Regions from separate parts of the Homo sapiens genome. Here region 2 is linked to region 1. A link means that fine-mapping ties the variant in region 1 to the expression of a gene that starts in the linked region. Tissue or cell type: whole blood. Region 1 holds a variant in brackets; the other region holds the start of a gene. All regions are shown on one strand. Distances are between the middles of the regions.

The links. PIP is the estimated chance that this variant, and not a neighbour inherited with it, causes the effect.
Region 2: it holds the start of ITGB4, and the variant in region 1 is fine-mapped to the expression of ITGB4 in whole blood (TOPMed, PIP above 0.99).

The regions. Positions count from the first base shown.
Region 1 is chr17:75,747,206-75,755,306 of GRCh38, reverse strand. It overlaps ITGB4 (integrin subunit beta 4), which reads right to left. Exons shown (of 40, transcript NM_000213.5): 27 at 6,262-6,466; 28 at 5,039-5,196; 29 at 4,447-4,627; 30 at 4,196-4,333; 31 at 2,951-3,133; 32 at 2,730-2,861; 33 at 1,333-1,542; 34 at 492-731. It also overlaps a transcript of GALK1 not described here. Among named protein-coding and RNA genes, the nearest start is that of GALK1, 14 kb to the left of the region's middle. RefSeq lists an enhancer at 767-1,540 and a silencer at 1,128-1,737. The variant A/G (reference allele first, on the strand shown) is at 4,741.
Region 2 is chr17:75,716,775-75,724,875 of GRCh38, reverse strand. ITGB4 (integrin subunit beta 4) reads right to left here and starts at 3,417. Exons shown (of 40, transcript NM_000213.5): 1 at 3,264-3,417; 2 at 94-182. The coding sequence starts at 172. RefSeq lists enhancers at 1,131-1,682, 2,597-3,135, 3,136-3,674 and silencers at 3,395-3,784, 3,795-3,854.

The sequences.
Region 1 (8,101 bases):
GGAAGCAGTGGGCACAGCTGGCGGCTGCTATGGTGGCTGGATGACAGATGGAGCAGGACAGCTGTGGAGACAGGATGGCCACCCCTGTACTACCTGGGCCCCAGGAGGGCGCTGCTGGCCTCCCAGCCAGGATTATAGAGTCTCGTGGGCCCCTGGAAGGGGGGAACCCTTTCATCTGAGCCCGACTCCGGGACCCCAGGGCCCAGGACAGCGGAAGCCTGCTCCTCCCGTGTTCCCAGATGGGAGGGAGGCCTAGGGCAGGACAAAACAAGAGTGAGAGGAGCAGGGAGTGTGCATGCATGTGTGTACGTGTGCGCATGCATGTCTGTGTACATGTGTGCATGCGTGTGCACGTGTGTGCGTGCATGTGTGCATGCGTGTGTGTATGTTGGAGAATGGGCGGTGGGGACAGCAGACAGAAGCCCGAGGCTCCAGGAGCTGGAAGAGAGGAAGGGTTAGTGGGAGAGGCAGGGTTGGCTGAGGTCACTCACCGTGGGAGGAGACGGAGGTGAGGGTGGAGTAGTCCCTGGGCAGTGTGGTCGAGTGTGAGTGTTCTGAGCGGGTCAGTGAGTTGTAGTCCCGTGTGAGGGTGGAGGATGTGCTTAGCACGCGGTGGGGCACGTGTGGGCTCAGGTGGGTGCCATAGGCAGCAGCACTGGTCGTGGTCATCCTGTGCAGGGAGTTGGTGCTGCCCGGGAAGGCAAAGTCCATCCGGCCATTCACCAGGTGCTCTGCAGGGGGAGAGCAGGGTCCCTTGGTCAGGCCTGCCCCAGACCCGGGCCCCGTGGGGCAGGCTGGGCCCTGCACATTCCTGGTCACCCACCCTCTGGGTGGCTTTTGCTTAAATACAACCAGTTTCCCTCAAACCACTAGGGACAGAGGCCCTCTGTCCCTGCAGGAGCCCAAGGGCCACCCAGGCTTCCACAGCCCATATCCTCTGGCCGGCCACTCTATCGGTGTGAGCACTGCTGACCCTGGCAGTGGCGGGGGTTTGCTGCGTCTGCAGTCAGCTCTGCCCTGGGGAGATCCCCAAGCCTTCCCTCCTGTCCTTTGAGGCCCCTGAGGGGTCTACTTGGGTGCCAGGGTCCGCTTCCCGGGCAGACTTCTGAATTTGCACCCCCTGGCCAGGCAGGCACCATAAGGGCCCAAGCGCCTGCCTCACGCGTCCCCTGGCACTGGGCCCTGCCTCTGAGCAGCTGTGCTCCCAGCCGCCAAGGCCCGGGCCTGGCTGAAACTGGGGCCCCCGAGGCAGCGCAGACGCCCACCCCAGGCCCTCAGGCGCGAGTGAGGCTGGGTGGGCGCGGATCGGGGGGCGGCGGGTGAGCCTGTCACCTCCGGGGGGCCCGGGTGTCGCACTGCGGGGCAGGCTGCCGCCCTTCCCGCCCGCGCCGCCGTCGTCCGGGGGCCCGTGGGGCGCCTCGGCGTCGGAGGAGCGCCCGCTGCTGGCCGACAGGCGCGGGATGAGCTCCGGGGGCAGCCGCCACGTGACGCGCCGCAGGTCCAGCTCCTCCCCCAGCAGGGGCTCGAACTTCCAGCCGCAGCCTTGGGAACAACGAAGGGCCGCGTTGGCACCGCCGGGGGGCGCCGGGCCGAGCAGGGCCAGGCGGGGGAAGGCCGTAGGCTCTGCGAGGGGAGCCCGTCTCCAGCTCCCGGGATCCCGGGGTGTGTGTTGGGGGCGGGGGTAGATGCGCACGGCCGGAGCGGGAAGGCCGCGGCAGGTGAAACCCTTGCGCGGCTGAAGCCTTTCCAGATGAGCGAGTGCAGCCTCGGCACAGCTGGGGAGGAGAGACCCCCGGACCCGCCAGAAACCTGGGGGAAGTCTGGGCTCTGTCACCAGCTGTGAGGTCTCCCTTGCTTTACTTAACCTCTCCGAGACTCAGTTTCCCGTTTGTACAATGGAGAGAGGAATCTTGCCCCTGCCCGCCTCCCAGGGACCGTTCCGCAAGCCACCGAGCGCTTCGCAGGTAGTGTTAGAAGCAGCTGAGCTGGGGTTCCAGAGTCACACCAGCTGCGCTCCACCTGAACCCCTCAAAATGGCTCCTTAAGCCCAAGCTGAGCCCCGTGGGGGCCAGTATGTGTTCACCGGGGGCAGCTTGAGGCATCGGCAGGGACAGAAGAAAATACAAAAGATATACGTGCCCCAGAGGTTTTTCCACTCATGGTACTGTGTGATTGGTATCCCATTATACAGAGCAGAAAAGTGAGGCATGGAAAGGATGAGTGATTCATCTGATGTCCCACAGGTGGAGCCACAGCTGACACTGAGCACTCAGGAGGCCCAGCTAAGGGCTCCGCAGCACTTTGTGCTGGGAATCAAGGAGGAAGGACAGAGCTGTTGGGGGTGTTCTTGTCTCCTTGGCTCCCCTACCCCTGCCAGGTGGCCGCCTGGTGGCTGCCCAGGGCTCCTGGGCCAGGCCTGCCCCTGGGGGGTGGCCTGAGTGTCCTGTGTGCATGGCACAGCTGGTGAACCTTCAACTTGTGAAGCTGTGTTTCTTCGTGGTCCCGTGGGCATGAACTCATGTGCGCTTGCACAAGGCTGTGTGTGTCTGTCCCCCAGGCACTGGTTCCTGTGCCCCATGCACAGATGTGCACTCCATTGCATTTGTCCAAGGCTGCCTTAACCTCCATGTCCTCTAGTTGCTGGCCCCTTTGCCCTCTCTGGACCCAGTGGACTCACTCTGTACCCAAGACCCCCACTGTCCTCTTGTGGGTCCCAGGTCTCCACTCACCAGTGTCATCGGAGACGCTGGGCCTCTGGCTGCCCGATGGAGAGCGTAGAACGTCATCGCTGTACATAAGGAAGCTGTCGTAGTCCTCCCCGCTCTGGGCGTCCACGATAGGGATGTCAGGGATGATGGGGACTGCAGGGCAGGGGAGTGAGCCAGGGCCCTGGCTGCTGCCCCCTGCCCCCCTGCCCGGTCTGCCCCTCACCTCCCTGCCCACCACTCACTGGACATGGGCCTCTTGGGCTGGGTGGCCAGGTTGATGATGGCCTCCCGCTCAGGCCCCCAGCCGGCCCCGTTGCGCGCCTTCACCGTGTAGCGGTAGGGCTGGGACTCCCGAAGGTTCTCAATAAGCAGCATCCGGTTCTTAGGGTTGTCAACCAGCACTTTCTTCATGGGCCCAATAGGTCCTGGGGCAGAGAGAGTGCTTCAGAGGGTCACCCAGGTCCCAGCCTGGTCCCAACACCACCCCTGACACAGCAGGACGGCCGTGCATCCCCTGGATGGCACCCAGGGGCTGGGGAAGCAAGGCAAAGCCAGCCACTGCTGAATTGCCGCCTGCGGAGCCCTGAGCGTCAGCATGACTGGCGTGGACATATGTCACCAGTCCTCCAAGGGACTCTGCTGAGTAAGTGGCAGAGCCAGGGCTGGACTCAAGTTGGCCTCGATGTCACCTCTACCCATATATCCACGGTGCCTCCACACAAGGCAAGGGCACGCATAGGGGTTGCCCACCCTGCCTCCCTTCCAGGACTGGAGAAATAACTGTTCTGCTAGGCACCTCTGATCTCGGGCTGCTAGATAAAATAATGTATAAAATAATCCTTTTTATTTATTTATTTTTAGACGGAGTCTGGCTCTGTCACCCTGTCTGGAGTGCGGTAACACGATCTCGGTTCACTGCAACCTGCGCCTTCTGGGTTCAAGTGATTCTCCTGCCTCAGCCTCCTGACTAGCTGGGACTACAGGCATGAGCCACCATGCCTGTCTAATTTTTAGTAGAAACGGTTTCACCATGTTAGCCAGGCTGGTCTTGAACTCCTGACCTCAAGCAGTCCACCTGCCTCGGCCTCTCAATGTACAAAATAATCTTTTAAAGTGCTATCTGAAATTCAGAACCTCCTGTATTTCTGTTTGCTAAATCCGGTAACTTTCCTCTCACCCTAAGAAAACCATGCACGTGTGAGCTCCCTGGTTACCTGCATGGGGAGGGGTACCCCTGGGCCTGTGACCTCACTCCACATAGGTAACCACCCACCCTGCAACCTTCTGGGTTTGGTCTTAGAATGCAACCCAGCCCAAATCTGGCCAAAACCCTAAAGATGCCTCAGGCTTATCCGCTGACCAGGATGAAGGCCTCGAGTGCCCTGCACAGCAGGTCCAGGGAGTGACCAAGAGCTCCCTCCAGCTTTGTCCCCTCCCCTTCCATGGCTGTTCTCCCTGTGGGCAGGAAAGAAGGATCTGGTTCTTACGGTTGTCATCGTTGACCAGGCCATAGCAGACCTCGTAGGCTGTGATCTCACCGTTGGTCTCAGCCGGCTCAGCCCAGCTCAGCTGGGTCACCGTGGAGGAGACGACATTGAAGGCCAGACGCCCTGGCTCGCTGGGCACTAGGGAGCGGGGAATACAGGAAGAGTGCTGTCAGTGGCAGAGGGAGGGAGGTCTGGGCATGCTGGCATCAGGGCAGCCAGGGGACAAATGGACAGACATGGCGAGGCCTCACCTTCCTGGTGGGTGCGGCAGGACACCAGGGAGCTGTAGGGTCCCTCGCCCTGAGCCCCGTAGGCGCACACCTTCATCTCATAGTCGCAATACGGGTACAGGTTGGTGAGCTCCACTGAGGGCACCTTGCTGTCGAGCAGGTGGGCTTCGGATTCGGAGTCACCCTGAATCCAGTACTTTACCTACCCCCAGGGACAGGGGTCCTGGTCAGCAGGGAGCAGCAGGCACCCAAGCTGCCTGTCCCTCCTCTGACCTCTGCCCTTACTGTCCTCTTTGCACAGATGAGGCCCGAGGG[A/G]GGGGCTGAGAGATCTGCCATGTGCACACGTCAGGACTAGGGCAGAGCAGGTGGGGGTATCTCCCATGCGGGGGTGGGAGGGGGCCCCATTCTAGGAAGGAGGGCAAATGTCTGATAAACTCAGGAATGGGTCTTCCCTCTTTCCCAGCACAGACCGGGTTTCCCTCTGACCACCTGTGCTAGGTTCCACTGTCTGCTCTCTCTCAGGGGGCCCTGGCCTTGGACGGCCCACCTCTTCTGTGAGTGCTGGTGCCAGACCGCCCATCCACCTGTCGTGACCCTCAGCCCCCCGCCTTACCCTGTACCCCATTGGCTTGCCAGAAGGGGGCAGCCAGTTGAAATGGATCTTCCTGGACCCAGCGGCCTTAGCATTGGGGTTCTGCGGGGCGCCCAGGTCGCCGTGAGGGGGTGGCTGTGATGACAACATCTGACTCGTGAAGCTCCGGTCCAGTTCATCTAACGGGTCAGGTTGGGGCCGGGCAACCACTCAGATCCCCCTTCACCACCAGGGGGCGCCAGAGACCCACTTCAACACCCAGGGCGCTCTACCCAGCGCATTCAACTCAGACCTGCCCACCCGCGTCTCTGGAGACCTGGTGGTGCCCCATTGCTGCCACATAGAGCATCCTGCCAAGCTTGGCGGAGGACCCAGGAGGGTCTCTGGAGGAACAGAAGCGGGAGGGAGTTGGTCTGCCCCTTTCTCCCTTGGCAGCTCAGGGAACATTCCACATGAGAACATTTGCTCCCCACCCCATCTCCACACTGTACCCTGAGTATCTCCCTCCTCTCCCATCTTCCTGGCAGGCTTTCTCCCAGTTGGGAGGCTGAGGGCTGATAGGAACTAACTGGCCCACTCCTTCCTTCCACAAGCATCTGCATGTTAGTTGGAATTGAGGCTGAAGCCAAAGGGCCAGGGTCTGATGGGAGAATTCCTATTGTGTGGTGACAACAGCCTCTCTAGCTGTAGGGTTGCCAGATAAAATGCAGGATGCCTAGTTACATTTGAATTTCAGATAAACAACAAGATTATTTTTTCTTGGGGGACAGGATCTCATTCCATGGCCCAGGTGCTGTGCAGTGGTGCGATCACAGCTTGCTGCGGCCCAGACCCCCTGGGCTCAAGTGATCCTCCCACCTCAGTCTCCGGAATAGCTGGGACTGCAGGTGCACACCACTATGCCAAGCTAATTTGTTTATTTTTTGTAGAGACGAGGTCTCACTATGTTGCCCAGGCTGGTCTAGAACTCCTGGGCTCAAGTGATCCTCCCACCTTGGCCTCCCAAAATGCTGGGATTACAGGTGTGAGCCAGTATACCCAGCCCATTTTGCAAAAAAAAGGATAAGTATGTTCCAAATATTGCATGGGACATACTTATCCTACCAACGTGTATGTTGTTTACCTGAAATTCAGATTTACCTGGGCGTCCTGTGTTTGGATTTGCTAAGTCTGACAGACCTAGTTGAGAGACCCCCCAGTCTTCCCTCTCCTCCTGCTTAAGCCGACCCCCAGGCTCTGCCTACCTGGGTCCCTGATGATGATGGTGGTGGAGTGGGGCTGGCCCAGGTGGGCCCCAAACTTAGGGTTGCTGAGCTGGACGTGGAAACGGCGGACCTGGCGGCCCCGCAGGAGGGAGTCAACTTCTTGCAGCTCCAGGAGCTTCACCTGCAGCTCTTTCCAGGCCTCCCCAGGCTGGAACAGCAGCTCACCCTCCACGGGGATGTAGTCCTGGGAGTGGAGGGGGTCAGGGTCAGGGTCATGGCTGGGGGCTGAGGCAAGAGTCATGGCCACACGCTCCCTCCCAACCTCATGGACACTGCAGAGACCATCCCTGCTTGCTGGGTGGAGTACTTACACGAGGTTCAGGTTTTTGTGTTTTTTTTGTTTGTTTTTTTTTTTGAGGCGTAATCTCACTCTGTCACCTAGGCTGGAGTGCAGTGGCATGATCTCGGCTTACTGCAACCTCCACCTTCCAGGTTCAAATGATTCTCACACCTCATCTTCCTGAGTAGCTGGGATTACAGGCACCTGCCACCACGCCTAGCTAATTTTTGTATTTTTAGTAGAGATGGGGTTTCACTATGTTGGCCAGGCTGGTCTCGAACTCCTGACTTCAAGTGATCCTCCCACCTTGGCCTCCCAAAGTGCTGGGATTACAGACATGAGCCACCATGCCCAGCCACGTTTCTGTTTGTTTGTTTGTTTTTGAGACAGGGTCTCACTCTGTCACCCAGGCTGGAGTGTAGGGGCACAATCACAGCTCACTGAAGCCTTGACCTCCTGGGCTCAGGCCATCCTTCCCCTCAGCCGCCTGAGTAGCTGGGACTACAGGCGTGCACCACACCTGGCTATTTTTTTTTTTTTTTTTTTTGTAGAGGCACGGTTACCCTATGTTGCCTAGGCTGGTCTTGAACTCCCGGCCTCAAGCGATCCGCCCACCTTGGCCTCCCAAAGTGCTGGGATTACAGGCGTGAGCCACCCATCTTCCTTTCAGTGCCGTGGAGCATGCCTGAGCTTTCCAGGATAAGAACTGGGAGGAAAAAGAAAATCCTTCACATAGAAGACCACTAGGTGGCACTTCAGGGCAAGATTTCAATTCCAGGCGCAGCAGCCAGGGCGATGGCTGGGGAGGCAACCTCATGCCACCCAACTCAGAAAGTGAGACCCATAGTTGTAAAACAAACAAACAAAAAACAAACCAGGGAGCTGCCTGCAAGCAACCTACATGGATACTTCAAAAACGTCAGTGTCATTAGCCCGGCATGGTGGCCGGTGCCTGTAATCCCAGCTACTCGGGAGGCTAAGGCAGGAGAATTGCTTGAACCCGGGAGGCAGAGGTTGCAGTGAGGCACTGTACTCCAGCCTGGGTGACAGAGCGAGACCTTGTCTTAACAAAAGTCAGTGTCACGGAAGACAAAGCCAGGAAACTTTTCTAGATTAAAGGAGTCAAGACACGTGACAAAAGTCAATGCCAAATCCTTGATTAGTTCCTGCATTGGGGGGAAAAACGCTATAAAGGACATTATTGGGACATCCGAACAAGGGGACATTGGAATATGGACCTATTTTATTTTATTTTATATATTTTTTGGGATGGAGTTTTGCTCTTTTGCCCAGACTGGAGTGAAGTGGCGCAATCTTGGCTCACTGCAACCTCCACCCACTGGGTTCAAATGATTCTCCTGCCTCAGCCTCCCTAGTAGCTGAGATTACAGGCGTGTGCCACCATGCCCGGCTAATTTTTGTATTTTTAGTAGAGATGGGGTTTCTCCATGTTGGTCAGGCTGGTGTCAAACTCCTGACTTCAGGTGATCCACCTGCCTCAGCCTCCCAAAGTGCTGGGATTACAGGTGTGAGCCACCA
Region 2 (8,101 bases), 30 kb after region 1:
TTAGGTGAGACACCGTGAGATCCCCGTGCAAGGGCAATGCCTGCCCAAGGGATGATCCTGCCAGGAGGGGGCTGCAGGGCAACGTGGACTCACCCAAGGTCCCAGAGAGGCTGACGCTGATCAAGGCTGCCAGGAGCAGCCTGGCCCATGGGCTGGGGCGTGGCCCTGCCATCCTCTTCCTCCTGCAGAACAGCAACAATTGACACATGAGGCCTCCACAGCCATGGTCGGTGCCGTCAGCTTCCTCTCGCTGCACAGCTGTGGGAACTGAGGCTCTGAGCACCAACAATGTGACCAAGGGCGCCCAGCCGCCAGAGGCAGGGCCCTGGGCCTCGGACTCCTGCCTTTTCCGCTGCCCTGTTCCGTGCCATCCCTGCAGTGGCCTATGCCCTGCCCCGGGAGGCCCCCTCCAGCCCTCAAGGACTCTGGTTTGCGAGTTTGTCCCAGTGCCAGGCCTCTCAGCACTGGGCTCCCTGAGGGCAGATGTGGGTTTATTCTTCTTTGCCTTTTAGCTCCCAGTGAGCCTGGGTCAGGCTTGGCCATGACAGGGTCATCCAATGAGGGTGCCTCCCTGAGAGGGGGCCGCAGCTCTGCCTCCTGCTCCTTCTGTCCTGGCCCACTTACCCTTTGGTGAGGGTGGCACAGCCGGGAGGAGAGGGGCCCCTCCCAATATCTGGGGCCTGGGGCTGGGCCACAGCTGCCCGCAGTGGCTTACTGCACCGGGTTGGGTTCTGCAGTGACTGCCCGGCCCATCAGGGTGGGGTCTGAATCATCTGCCCTCCCCTGTACCTCTGCCTGCCCCAGAGTTAAGTTTTCTGGGCCCCTGAGCTGTTCACCCTTTCACAAGTTAGCCCAGAGTGAGACATGCACACACACTGTGGCTCCCCTCAAGGCGTCCCCAGCGGCTGTGGGTTCAGTATTAAACCATCCTAAGTCCTCAGCGGCCTTCAGGGCAGGACTGGACATCCCTGAGGCCCTCTAAGAGATGCTCAGCCTGAAGCCTGGACAAGAAAAGAGGCTGGCGGCAGAGCCATCCAGGCCTGCAAGGCCGGGGCAAAGGTGAGCACCGCGCCTCTTTCTCTAGGGCCAGGTCTCCCAGGGGCCCAAGCCTCTGCCCTGCCCACGGGCCCTCCCCATTGAATCCTGTCTCAGCCCGGCTTCTGGGGCAGTGGCCACCCCAGGGTCTGGGGGCTGGGGTCCCCGAGGTGCTGGAGAAGCCCTTCTCAGGCCAAGGGCAGGAAGGCGTAGCCTGCTTCTAAGGCGTGCAGCCTGGAGGAGGCCACAGCAGCGCCAACACATGCAGGTCAGACCTGTTGTGGCACAGGGACTGGGAGGCAGCCCTGAGCCAGCAGGGAAAGGGTGGGGACAGCAGGGTTCCTAGAGGGAAATGACTTCCTTGCAGCCTCGGGGTGTAGCCGCCACACCCACATGCTACACAATACAGGCTGCAGGCTCAGGCCTCCCAGGCATCATTACACAGGCAGGTACAGGCCTGGAGAGCTGAGCCCAGCTCTTCCTCCCACTGTCCCTGGCCACAGCCCCTCAGGCAGTGCTGATTCCCACACTGTGACTGCCATATGAGCCCAGGGCTTCACGGAGGAGATTGCTCAGCACAGGAGCCCGGCGGGAGATGATTTCATTCTGCCCGTTTCCCAGATGAGAGACCAGGCACAGAAGGCTGTGGAACTTCCCCATCCCGCGGACAGCACTGGGAGGGCCAGGACAGGGCCCTGCTCTGCAGGCCCTGCCTTTAACCTCCATGGCAGCCTCCACGCAGAAGCTACAAAATGGCAGTTAGAGGGTTGGCGAGGCACCCAAGAGTGTTTGGCTTCATTTGTTTAGAAAGTTTTAAAAGTAGGAGCCAATGTTAGAAACAACGAGATTTCCCATAAAAGTTAGGAATTTGTGTTTATCATTAGATGTATCACGATGGGCTGGGCCCAGCGCTCAGGACACCTACTCTCCAGGCGGCCCGGACCCCACCAGGCTGCCCCGACTTTATGTACCAGCAGGTCCCTGGAGTGTGTGACTGCCACCCTGAATGCCATCACACTGCAGCACAGGCAGTTTCCCCCCCACAGGGACACACACACACACACACACACACACACACACACAGGCCATGCCCACCCACCCACAGGCTCAGAGCTCCCCTGGCCCCCATCCCAACCCCTGGGGACCCCTCTGGGCACACCTGCTCCTGTCCACTATCCTCTCCCGCTGTCACATCTCCTCCCCTCAGGGACCCAGGCCCTTCCTCGCCCCAGAGAGGCAGCTGGCCAGAAGTCTGGGGACCCCAGGCCCTTGGCTGTTCTGTCTCCCTGAGAAATCAGGGTCGAGTAGACAGACATACCTCCCCTCCTGTCCCTCCTGCTGTCCTTCCCTCAGCCCCCAGGATGGAGACTCCAAGCCTTCACTGCCAGCTCTGTTTCGGACAGCAACAACCATGCCACCTGTGCCTGGTCCTTGTCCTCAGGGTGTGGCAAGGCCATGGGGGCAGAGGAGAAGCCCTGTCCCTGCTCCTGGGAGTCACCAGGAGCCCCAGAGCCCCAGTCCCAGCCAGAGGGCCACCCCAGAGGCTGAGCCATGGGAAAGAGGGCGGATGCTGCAGGAGGTGGCAGTGTTGGGCACAGCCCTGGGGCTGGTGGGTGAGGCCTGTAGAGCTTCCTGAAGGAAGGCGCCTGGGGCTGACTTTGGGAGGAAGGCAGGCCTGTGCTTGGCCAAGAGAAAAGGAAAATCAGGGACTCCCCAGCCCCAGATGGACTGTGGCACCGCATAGAGCAAGCCCTGCCTGGAGCCGGGATGGCGTCTGCCTCTCAGGGTGGCTTTTAAAAGTAGGAGCCAATGTTAGAAAGAACGAAATTTCACATAAAAGTCAGGAATGTTGGTTTATCATTAGATGCGCCATGATGGGCTGGGCCCAGCACTCAGGCTGGTGTCTACTCCACCTTCTTTGCAAACCCTGGAGGGGCCCAGCCCCAGAGGGCTACCAGCCACTGGCCTCTGCCCACTTCTCCCGCAGGCGCACCCAAGGCGCTCCTCTGGCCTGGAGGTCTGATGGGCACCACCCTTCTCTAGCTGCCCTGCCCCTTGGCTGCCAGCTGCCCCCGGCGCACCCCGGGGAGGCTGGGCACCTGTCCTGCGCAGCGTGGACAGAGGGACCGGGGCCTGTCAGCCTTCAGGGAGGGGAAGGGGAGACAAAAGCCACCGGCCCTGCCCGACCAGCTCCCCTGCGCGGCTGCCCAGCTGGGGCGGGCACTCACCCTCTCCCGGCCAGCCTCGGCTGCTGCTGTGCGCCCGTCCTGGACCTACCTCGGGGCGGACTCGCTCCCTCCGCGCCTGGGCTGCCGCTAGGAGATGGGGCTGCAGCGCGCGGGCGAGCAGGGACTGTCCGAGGGCGGGCGCGGGGGTTGGGGGGGTGGGGACGAGGCGGGCAGCGCTTTATGGGGCGGGCGCGCAGGTAGGAAGGAGGCGCTGGTGAGTCAGACCGGCTGCATTCCTTCGCGCGGCGCGCACCTGTCGGGGCAGGAGCTGGGTGCCGCCGCCGGAGCCGGGTCCGCCCCCCGGAAAGGGCTGCGGCTCCCGCGGCGCCCGCCCAGCGCCCCGATCGGCTAGCGGCGGGGGCCGGGGGAGGAGCCACCGCTCTCCCTCTCCCTCCGGTCCGGCCCTGGGCGCGGGGCCTCCCCACCCCTCCAGGCTCCGGGCTCCAGGCTCGGGTGCGCGGACTGCCCCGGGCTGGAGGCGGCCTCTTAGCCCCCGTCCGCACGGGAACCCTCCCTGCCCCGACTCTGGGCCGCTAGCCAACGCCGGGCTGTGCTGCTGCTGCTGCCCCGACGGTCGTCAGCCGCGTACCCCCCTCCCCGCTCTCCGTGCCAGCGCGAGGCATGGGCCCAGGGAGTGCCCCCGGCCCGGTCGGGAGGCCTGACTCCCCGTCCCAGCTCTGCTCTGCAGTTCACGGGGTCCTCTCAGCCTCCAACCCCTAACCTCACGTTGTATCCAGAGGGAGAGCCGAGGAAGGGTCGGGTCCTCGGTGCACCCTTCAACAAGCTACTTAAATCTCCTTACAGTGTGAACAGTGATACCCTGGAGAGGTCAGTGCCGACCTGGCATGGATTGGCACTCGATGCCTTGTTACAGTTGTTCTTAACAAGCTGGTTACAGAGCTGGCCCCTCCCTCCCGTCAGTCCTCTGAGAGCAGTCTCTCCATTGCCACTGCTTACCACGGGTGTTCAGGTCAGAGAAGGGCTTCATTTTTCTTTTTCTTTTTGTTTTCTCTCTCTTTTTTTTTTTAGATGGAGTCTCACTCTGTCGCCGAGGCTGGAGTGCAGTGGTGCAATCTTGGCTCACTGCAACCTCTGCCTCCCGGGTTCAAGCGCTTCTCCTGCCTGTTTCCCGAGTAGCTGGGATTACAGGTGCCCGCCACCACGCCCGGCTAATTTTTGTATTTTTAGTACATCATGTTGGCCAGGCTGGTCTCGAACTCCTGACCTCAGGTGATCCACCCGTCTTGGCCTTCCAAAGTGCTGGGATTATAGGCGTGAACCACCATGCCCAGCCAGGGCTCCATTTTTCTCTAGGCTTACTGGCCAGCAATGCCAAACAACACCAGACTGCTGGCACAGCACTGTCCAAACCATGCGGTTTCAAGCCACCGTGCTTTTTCAACAGGCTGGTCCCTTCCCATGACATTGAGCCCAGTTTATCCTTCTTGTCCTTGAAGACGTTGCACCAACCACGTGCTAGAGAGCCTTCCTTGACCTCTCCACACCCCAAGTTGGTTTATGTGTCCCCATAACCCTTGGGCCATGGCTTTTACATGGCATTTGCCACATTGGTTTGAAATGATGTTTAGGAATCTCGCCACACTGTTGGACTGTGACTCCAAGGGCAGCTACTCTCTAGCACCTAGCACCATGCCTGGTGCATAGCAGGTGCTCAATAAAAGGGTGGTTGAGTGAATGGGATGGTCACACAGCCTCCCTGAGCCTCCATGCTGTCATCTGTAAACAGATTCCTCCACTGCTACCTCTCAGAGTGATTGCAGGGGTGCTGGTTGCAAATGTGTGAGTCGCCACCTTTCCTGGTCATCTGAGAGCTGTTCTGCACAGAGAAAGTGTTCAGAGAGGCTTGCTCCTGGATTTGGGAACAATGTGGAAGGAGTCCCAGTTTGGTTGAAGCACTCAGATCTGTGTGTGTCAGGCCAGCACAAGTGCCCTGTGGACCTGAGTCACTCCAGCAGGTACCTATCCACCCCAAAAAACAGAAACATGGAGCAGGAGCTCAGAGAACGGCCAAAAACAGCTTGCCTGAGGGGCCTGGGTCTGCCAGCAGCACCCATTAGAGAACTAGGGGGTCATATACACCCCACTGTGGGTGGGGGCTGAGGCTTCTTCCTAGAGAAGACCCAGGTCCAGAGCTGGCGATGCCCCAGGCCACTGGGCTCAGCAGCCCCTTCCTCTCTTCATTGCAAACCCTTCTGAAAATGACTAGGGGGCCTGGAGCCCTGTAGCAGCTGAGAGGCGAGATGTCAACCCAGGGAGGTCTCACTAAGTAAGATAAGCCATGAGCTTCCTTGGCTTCTCGGAGTCCTGGGGTTCATTACCTGGAGCCCGCATGTGGACTTGGCAGTGGGGAGTCCCTGAACCATCTCAGATCTTGTGCAAACTTTGAGGAGTATCTGATTTCAGAATGTGGGTTTGCTGGGAGGGGAGCCTTAGCTTACACTGGATTCCCAAATAGGTTACTGGCCCCAGAAGTTTAAATATTGCATGTGATTTTTTTTGTTGTTGTCATTGAGATGGAGTCTTACTCTATTGCCCAGGCTAGAGTGCAGTGGTGCGATCCTGGCTCACTGCAACCCCTGCCTCCTGGGTTCAAGCGATTCTCCTGCCTCAGCCTCCCGAGTAGCTGGGATCACAGGTGCACACCACCACGCCTAGCTAATTTTGTATTATTAGCAGAGTTGGGGTTTCACCATGTTGGCCACGCTGGTTTCAAATTCTTGATGTCAAGTGATCCACCCACCTCAGCCTCCCAAAGTGCTGGGATTACAGGCGTGAGCCACTGCTCCCAGCCTGCATGTGAATTTTATAAAACTAAAATAAACCCCACTATCTCTGCAGCCTTAGGGCCAGAGTGAGGTTGGCTCATAGGGGGCTTCCTAGGCTCTGCAAGAGAGGTGAGGCCCCTGGAACAGGACCGAGCCCAAGGACCTTGGATTGTTGCTCCTCCACTCCCCTGCACTCCTCATGTGGCCTCCAGTAGGTCAGACTTGTTCATTCATTAGTTCAATTATTTATTCATTTTATGAGCAGTTAATGAGCTCCTATGCCAAATGCTGGGGATACCAAGATGAACGAGAACTACGGCCTGCTTCCTTCACTCCCAGTTCAAACCAGGGGTCTCCAAAGTAGGCTGAGTATTCTCGAGGTAGGTGCTAGCTGAGACCCTATTCTTTTTTTTTTTTTTTCTTTTGAGATGGAGTCTCACTCTGTCGTCCAGGCTGGAGTGCAGTGGTGCAATCTCGGCTCACTGCAACTCTGCCTCCTGGGTTCAAGCGATTCTCCTGCCTCAGCCTCCTGAGTAGCTGGGATTACAGGCACGCACCACCATGCCCAGCTAATTTTTGTATTTTTAGTAGACATGGGGTTTCACCATGTTGACCAGGCTGGTCTTGAACTCCTGACTTCAGGTGATCCGTCTGCCTTGTCCTCCCAAAGTGTTGGGATTACAGGCGTGAGTCATTGCGCCCAGCCCTGAGCCCCTATTCTTATACTTGAGAATGTACATTACTTATTGGTAGATTGGCACCTGTTTTATAAAAGAACAAGTTAAAGAATAAATAGACAGGGGATGTGTGGTGGAAAGAGTCCAGTGACCTGTCTGGAGAGCCCGCATCAACCACATGTTCAGACTGGGGGCAGAGGCCTCTCCGGTGCAGAATCCTGGGGTTTGTTTTCTCCTCAGAGCCAAGGGGTTGCTCAATAGGCCCCCTCTTTTTTGAGACAGGGTCTTACTCTGCTGCCTAGGCTGGAGGGCAGTGCCACGATCGAGGCTCCCTGCAGCCTCAACCTCCTGGGCTCCAGTGATCCTCCCACCTCAGCTTCCTGAGTAGCTGAGACTACAGGTGTGTGCCACAAATCCTGGATAAGTTTTTAATTTTTATTTTGTAGAGACAGAGTTTCACCATGTTGCTCAGGTTGGTCTTGAACTCCTGGGCTCAAGCAATCCTCCCGTTTCAGCCTCCCAAAGTGCAAGGATTGCAGGCGTGAGCCACCATGCCCCAAAAAGTTGAAAGAATACAAAAATCACCCGTATTTTTACCAACTAGACTCAAGAATAATATTTTGCTGTATTTATTTATATATTTGTTAAACATTTGTATATTTTTAAATTTGAAGTTGCACTTATCCTGCCATTTCATCCTAAACACTCCAGCATGTATCTCTCAAGAACAGTCCCCCACGTAACCTCAATACCCCCCTTTATTTTTTTGAGACAGAATTTTGCTCTTGTTGCCCAGGCTGGAGTACAATGGTGCAATCTCGGCTCACTGCAGCCTCTGTCTTCTGGGTTCAAGCAATTCTACCTCAGCCTCCCGAGTAGCTGGGACTACAGGTGCATGCCACCACGCCCAGCTAAATTTTTGTATTTTTTGTAGAGACGGGGTTTCGCCGTGTTGGCCAGGCTGGTCTTGAACTCCTGACCTCAGGTGATCTGCCCGCCTTGGCCTCCCAAAATGCTGGGATTACAGGTGTGAGCCACTGAGCCCGGCCCCTTTTCACACCTAAGGAAATAATGTCTCCATTAAATGATGTGTGATTCAGTCCATATTCAAATTTTCTTAGTTGACTCCAAAATGTCTATTATAAAGGTTTCCTTTTGAATTTGAGTCCAATCCATGCCACCTATTGCATTTGATTGTTTTGTCTCTTTGTCATTCTAAAATAGAACCCTCACCATCCCATCCCCTGCCCTACATTACTTTTTTTTTTTTTTTGAGACAGAGTCTCGCTCTGTCGCCCAAGCTGTAGTGCAGTGGCACGATCTCAGCTCACTGCAAGCTCCGCCTCCCAGGTTCACCCCATTCTCCTGCCTCAGC